Linked DNA regions of Homo sapiens. The protein of the gene in region 1 interacts with the protein of each later gene in a biochemical or structural test. Each region holds a gene or a part of one and is shown on either strand. Other genes may lie near its edges.

Region 1 (3,520 bases):
CCCAGCTCTGTGCAGGTACCAAAGGCCCCTGAATCGCAGTTTACAGGGAGACTCATCTGCTATGTGAGTTGTAACTTGATAAAAGCTGTTACTAAAAAAGAAGATCCTGGGATGCTGTTCAAGGCCCAGCCCCAGGAGCCACGCGGGGAGGACGGCCGCCCACCCCTGCCAGCCTGCAGACCCGGCCACCGCTCCAGTCCTGGCCAACGCCGCCCCCTCCTGGGAGAAGCCTTGGGATCCACAACCTCCCTTTTTAAAACAGGGAAGGGCCGGGCGCGGTGGCTCACGCCTGTAATCCCAGCACTTTGGGAGGCCGAGGTGGGCAGATCACAAGGTCAAGAGTTGGAGACCAGCCTGACAAACATGGAGAAACCCCTTCTCTACTAAAAATACCAAAAGTTAGCCTGGCGTGGTGGCGGGCGCCTGTAGACCCAGTTACTCGGGAGGCTGAGGGAAACAGGTTTGTCGGAAGCCCCACAGCCAGCATGGACAGAGGTGGGCTGGGACTCAGGCGGGCTCTGAGCGTTTCTTCATTATGATTTATTGGTCCCTCCCTGTCCCTCCCACCCGTCCTCACCCACCCCACTGCACCCCTGGAGGGGAAGGGTCCTGTGGAGACAGCGAGGGGGTCCCCATCACCCCAGGGCATCAGGCCGATCGGCCGGTGACCTTCCTGATCCAGGACACGTAAGGCGCCACAGCGGTGGCCACGGGAGGCTTGAAGATGTCAGTGCAGACCCTGGAGCTGAAGGACAGGACTCTGGCCAACACCCGGCCTTTGCCACACACCAGGGGCCCGCCCGAGTCACCCTGCAGGGACGACACACCGCAGCTCAGCCTCTGCACCTGCTGAGGGGACGAGGGGAGCAGGGCCCGCCGAGGGGAGCAGGGCCAGGCCTGTTATCCCCAGGCTCAAGGAGACACAGGGGCTGCTCCCGGCCCACGCGTGTCCCCTCCCCATCTCCCGCTGGCCCTGTGAACCCTGCTCCTTCTTCCCCCGCCGGACCGTCTTGGCTGGAGCAGAAGTCACAGCTCTGCCGCTTCCCGGCTGTGTGGTCTTGCGCAGGTTGCTAAACCTGTCTGAGCCTCAGTTTCTGCACCTGAGAAACGGGACCCCTGCCAGTGCTTCCCCGCCCCCCAGCCCCTGACAGGACTCCCCAGAGAACGGGAGAGCCAGGAACCTGCCCGGCGGCTGCCCTGGCCCCGGCCCTCCCGCCAGCCTCATTCCCCCAGCCCCACCCGGGCGCCCCTCACCTTGCAGGGAGCCTGGTCCTTGGAGTCGGCCGCCAGGCAGACCATGCTGGGGGAGAGGCTGCCGTTCCAGAAGCGGCTGTTGTTACACATGCGGGTGTCCAGCACTTGGAGGTCCAGCTCCCGCAGCACCCGGGACAGGCGCCCGCCCTGGTGGGTCAGCCCCCAGCCGGCCATGCTGCACCGAGTCCCTGCTGCCACCACCTGGCGCTTACTGGGCAGGGCCAACGGCCGGATGGTCCGGCTGGGCTTCACTTTCCCGTCCAGCTACGAGTGACAGGAAGGGGCAGGTGAGCAGGGGGAGGGGGTGAGAGTGCGGGGGCGGGGGGCGGCAGCGGGGGGAGGGGTGGCAGTGGGGGGAGGGTGGGCAATGGGGGAGGGGGCAGTAGTGCGGGGGGAGGGGCAGCAGTGCGGGGGGAGGGTCGGCAGCGGGGGGAGGGCGCAGTGGGGGTGAGGGGCACCCGTGGGGGACAGGAGGGTGCCCAGTTCTCCCTGTCCCGTCCCTGCACACCTGAAGCAGCGCGAGGTCGTTCTCCAGGGCAGGGACGGGCTTGTAGCGAGGGTGCTGGATGGCTGCCTTGATGTGGAAGGTGAGACCGGGGCTGTCCAGGGTGTGGAGCCCCAGCACCAGCCTCAGCTGGGCCATCCTGGGGACAGAGGGAATCAGGGTGCTGCGGCCTGGCCCGGCGTGGACGACCCGCCACATGCAGTCCCGGCCCCCACTGTGCCCGTTGTCCATGGCCATCACTCACAGCCGCTGCCCCTCACAGGCCTTGGCTTGGCCAGTCCTTCCCTGTGTCTTTGCAACCCACCTCCTCCAGGAAGCCCTCCCTGCTCTCACCCCTGCCCCAGACTTCTGCCCGGCCCTGGCCCCAGGCAAGGGCTGTGTGTCCAAAAATCCAACCCCAAGCCTACAGCTTCACGAAAACCAGCCCTGGGAATTCCCTTCACTTGGGGCCCCAGGCTCAACCACAGTGATTTGTACAGGGGTTGACACATGCCAATCCTCCTAAGTGTGCCCCAACTTTAGAGAGCCAAGCCCTCTTTCCATGGGACTGAGGAGGGTCAATCTTTCCACCTTGTGAGACAGGCTTCCTGGTAGTGCAGCAGAGCTGGGAGACAGATGGGCTCCACAGCGCCTCCTGTGAGCACCTGGATCAAGCCGCACCTGAAGCCAGGCCTCCTCCTAGACTTTGCAGTTACACAAGCCGGCAGATCCCTTTTTGTTACTTTGACCATCTTGATCTGGGCTCTGTATGACGGACCAGTCCTGAGGTAGGGCAACTCCATGATGGGTCATTTAGCGGCTTCCTGATCCCCGGGAACCAGGTCGATTCCCGAGCCACTCTCGAAGGCCGGCTTCGACCTCCTGGCCACAGGTGGCAAACACCCCCACCTGACCCTCCTTCCTTATAGCAGAAGCCCCCGCCTAAGTTGGGTCCATCAGCAGGTGAATGGACAGACACAATGCACTCTGTCCACACCAGGACTGTGGCTCAGCCGTGAAAGGAGCCAGGCTCTGACCCAGGCTGCGGTGTGGAAGGAGCTGGCCCTGCCAGTGCCTCTTGCAAGGAGTAAACCTTCTCCAGGAGTCCCACAGCCGCAGGTCACTTAAACCTGCCTAAGTCGTCACCGGGAGGGGACGGGGGTCCCACAATGGGCCTAAATCTCCCAGAGCCCACCCCCTGCAGAGAATGGGCGCCGTCGGATGGATTCCCCGGACCCCTGGGGTGGGCAGGGCAGGGTACTCACCGCTGGGCCAGGCAGTGGGCAGCCGTCAGCACCCACTTTGGGTGCACCAGGACACCCCCGCACAGGTGGGAGCCATTTCTCTGCAGTGAGGCCATGTACGGGCGCGAGTGGGGGATCACCTCCCGGCCCCCGATGATCTGGGTCCCAAAGGAGCTGCCTGCCAGGATGGGGGACAAAGAGCCAGGTTGGGGCTACATGCCCCTGCTGCCTGCTGCGACTGTCCTTGCCCAGCTCAGAGGCCCAGGACCCCAAGCAGATGTGCCATCCTAATGAAGTCCCCAGTGTTCCCCGAAACTTTTAGGCTGATACGTGTGGGCTGCCCTTCATCCCTCCCATCCCCCTCTCATCACCCCCATCATGTTCCCCCCAGGCCACCTCCCAATCCCCTCTCCAGGACCTCCCCAGGCCCCACTGGGCCCCACAGCCACAGGAGTCCTTCAAAACGCACATCAGGCCGGATGTGGGTGGCTCACCCCTGTGATCCCAGCACTTCGGGAGGCTGAGGAGGGAGGATCAC
Region 2 (3,750 bases), on another chromosome or scaffold:
ATCTGCCTTGGCCTCCCAAAGTGCTGGGACTGCAGGTGTGAGCCACTGCGCCCGGCCTATTGTGACATATTGTGATATTTCTTTCTTTTTTGTGTGACAGTGTCTCACTCTGTTGCAGGCTGGAGTACAGTGGCACAATTTCGGCTCACCTCCACCTCCACTTCCTGGGTTCAAGCAATTCTCATGCCTCAGCCTCCCAAGTAACTGGGACTACAGGCGTGTACCACTACACCCGGCTAATTTTTTATAATTTCAGTAGAGACGGGGTTTCACCATGTTGGCTAGGCTGGTCTCGAACTCCTGACCTCAGGTGATCCGCCCACCTTGGCCTCCCAAAATGCTGGGATTACAGGTGTGAGCCACTGCGCCCGGCCTATTGTGATATTTCTTTACTTAATAACTAGCAGATGAATCTCTTAACAGTATTCTGTTTTCCTCTAAGCATGCATAAAAAGTGGTCAAATAAGTCCATGATGACTCATCACCTTTTCCCTGCAAGGAGTGTACTGTAGATTACCAAACCTGCAGAAGCCGTCTGTGTGGAGACAGGAGGAGGACAAACCAGGCTTGCTCTGCTTCACACCCAGAGACCTGGAGCCACAGCATGTGGAAATTGCTTTCATGACCTTTTATACCCCCTGCTGATAAAGCAATTAGAAAACTGAAGAGTTTCACGGTGGTGAGATAGAATTTCACAATACTGAGTGAGATATTAGCAATGGACTCTCCGTATGTCCCTATGGTCTACAAGCTTAATATGTATCTTTAAACAAACACATAAAAAAATTCATTAACTGGAGAAACAAGATTGTGGCCATAGTCAACACTCTATAATGTCACCATCTTCACCACTATCTCTGCTTAAAATTCTGCCGTACTATCTTCAGAATAAGGATAATGAATTGGAAATACGACCATTTCTTTTCATTGCCCTTGATGGTTACCTTTTTAAAAAAAAAAAAAAAAAAGTAGGGTCTTACTCTATCATCCAGGCTGGAGTATGGTGGCATGATCAGCCTTGAGCTCCTGGGCTCAAGTGATACTCTCGCCTTAGCCTCCAGAGTAGCTAGGATTATAGGTCAGTGCCACCATGCCTGGCTAACTTAAATTTTTTTTTTGTAGAGACAGGGTCTTGCTATGTTGCCTAAGCTGACAATTACTTTATTTAAAAGCTTTTTTTTCTGGCCAGGGGTGGTGGCTCACACCTGTAATCCCAGCACTTTGGGAGGCTGAGGTGGGTGGATCACCTGAGGTCAGGAGTTTGAGACCAGCCTGGCCAATGTGACAAAACCCTGTCTCTACTAAAAATACAAAAATTAGCCGGGCATGGTGGCACGTGCCTGTAATCCCAGCTGCTCAGGAGGCTGAAACAGGAGAATCGCTTGAACCTGGGAGGTGGGGGTTGCAGTGAGCCGAGAATGTGCCACTGCACTCCAGACTAGGTGACAGAGTGAGACTCTGTCTCAAAAAAACAAAACAAAACTTTTTTTTTTTCTTGAGATACGGAGTCTAGCTCTGTCACCCAGGCTGGAGTGCAGTGGTGCGCTCTCAGCTCACTGCAACCTCTGCCTACCGAGTAGCTGGGATTACAGGCACCCGCCATCATGCCCAGCTAATTTTTGTATTTTTAGTAGAGACGGGGTTTCACCATATTGGCCAGGTTGGTCTTGAACTCCTGACCTCATGTGATCCGCCTGCATCGGCCTCCAAAGTGCTGGGATCAAAGGTGTGAGCCACTGTCGTGCCTGTCCTTTTTTTTTTTTTTTTTGAGACAGAGTGTCACTCTGTCACCCAGGCTGGAGTACAGTGGCATAATCTCGGCTCACTGCAACTTCTGCCTCCCCGGTTCAAGCAATTCTCCTGCCTCAGCCTCCCGAGTAGCTGGGACTACAGGCTCCTGCCACCACGCCCAGCTAGTTTTTTGTACTTTTAGTAAAAACACGTTTCACTGTGTTAGCCAGGATGGTCTCGATCTCCTGACCTCGTGATCCACCCGCCTCGGCCTCCCAAAGTGCTGGGATTACAAGCGTGAGCCAACACGCTCGGCCTGGCTTTTTTTTTTTTTAACATGTTCCATATGGGGCAGGGCTAAATGTTAGGCAGTGCGCCCATAGTCACTGCCAATTACTTTTTTTTTTTTTTTTTTTGAGACGGAGTCTCGCTCTGTTGCCCAGGCTGGAGTGCAGTGGCGCAATCTCAGCTCACTGCAAGCTCTGCCTCCCAGGTTCATGCCATTCTCCTGCCTCAGCCTCCCAAGTAGCTGGGATTACAGGCGCCCGCCACCATGGCTGGCTAATTTTTTTTGTATTTTTAGTAGAGACAGGGTTTCACCATGTTAGCCAGGATGGTCTCGATCTCCTGACTTCACGATCCGCCCCCCTCGGCCTCCCAGTGCTGGGATTACAGGCGTGAGCCACTGCGCCTGGCCAATCACTGCCAATTACTTTTGAACAGAGAACATCATATGTAATTAGAGGAGGCGGGATATTGTTGGTGCAGCTATATCATTCAAAATTGGCAGAAGTCCTGAAGCTGGTGGGGCTAAAAAAAAAATTGGTGGAACGGCGTATGTTGAGACCTGGAATAGCTTCTCTGGAAGGTGCTCTAAGGCAGGGGGTAGAGTAGTACATAGGTAGTCAAATGATGAGGCTGAGGGTGTCTACCAATAACACAACGCCACAGAGCTTCCTTGGCACACTTCCCGCTGCTGCTATGTGGGATCCTGTCTGGCTCGCTTAGGATTCTGCAGGTCACCAGGTGGTGAGGCCTTGCTTGCTGAGATGCTCCGGAGAGAATGCAAGCTCTGCGTCTGCTGCAGGCGCAGGGCGAGCTCCCGCTCACAGGCCTCCTGAACAGTCTCCGTCTTCTTTATGTCCCAGTTCAAGGCAACAGCCAGTGCTTTGGGGTCTTCCTTGGTAACCAACTGCAGCAAGAATAAAAACCCCTGAGAACTGGGCCTTCTGTGCGCCTCTCCTGCTGCTCTCCTGACTCTCTTTTGGGGAGTGCAATGAGGCAGTATCCGTTTATGTTACCTCTTTACACTGAAATGCCGGGTTTCCTTTACCATTAATTGCCACGGGCTTTTTGTTTTTTGAGACGGAGTCTCGCTCTGTCACCCAGGCTGGAGTGCAGTGACACTATCTCGGCTCCCTGCAAGCTCCGCCTCCCGGATTCACGCCATTCTCCTGCCTCAGCCCCCTGAGTAGCTGGGACTACAGGTGCCCACGACCACGCCTGGCTAATTTTTTTGTATTTTTTTTAGTAGAGACGGGGTTTCACCGTGTTCGCCAGGATGGTCTCGATCTCCTGACCTTGTGATCCGCCCACCTTGGCCTCCCAAAGTGCTGGGATTACAGGCGTGAGCCACCGCGCCCAGCCTGCCATGGGCTTTTTTAAGACGGAGTTTCACTCTTGTCGCCCAGGCTGGAGTGCAGTGGCGCGATCTTAGCTCACGCAACCTCCACCTCCTGGGTTCAAGTGATTCTCTTGCTTCAGCCTCCCACCACCATGCCAGGCTAATTTTTGTATTTTTAGTAGAGATGGGGTTTCGCCATGTTGGTCAGGCTGGTCTCGAACTCCTGACCTCAGGTGATCCACCTGCCTCGGCCTCCCAAAGTACTGGCATTAACAGGCGTAAGCCACTGTGCCCGGACAAGCATGGGCCTTTTCTTACAACACCAACAGGAAGAAGTCCTTGGAAAGTTTACTTGGAGCAACTCTAAGGTCCTCCACCTTCAGGAAATTTAGCCA

Evidence for each region. The genes of interacting proteins can lie anywhere in the genome.
Region 2: of the proteins of GZMM (region 1) and DFFA, one has a biochemical effect on the other in vitro, tested with the Homo sapiens proteins (one study listed by BioGRID).

Annotation. Positions count from the first base shown.
Region 1 is NC_000019.10:546,920-550,439, reverse strand, and holds the end of GZMM (granzyme M isoform 1 preproprotein), read right to left. Parts: intron 3,161-3,520; coding exon 3,004-3,160; intron 1,899-3,003; coding exon 1,763-1,898; intron 1,519-1,762; coding exon 1,255-1,518; intron 811-1,254; coding exon 649-810; 3' UTR 518-648; downstream 1-517. UniProt on the Homo sapiens protein: Cleaves peptide substrates after methionine, leucine, and norleucine. Physiological substrates include EZR, alpha-tubulins and the apoptosis inhibitor BIRC5/Survivin. Promotes caspase activation and subsequent apoptosis of target cells.
Region 2 is NC_000001.11:10,458,780-10,462,529, forward strand, and holds part of DFFA (DNA fragmentation factor subunit alpha), read right to left. Parts: exon of another isoform or gene 2,924-3,750; coding exon 2,711-2,923; 3' UTR 1-2,710. UniProt on the Homo sapiens protein: Inhibitor of the caspase-activated DNase (DFF40).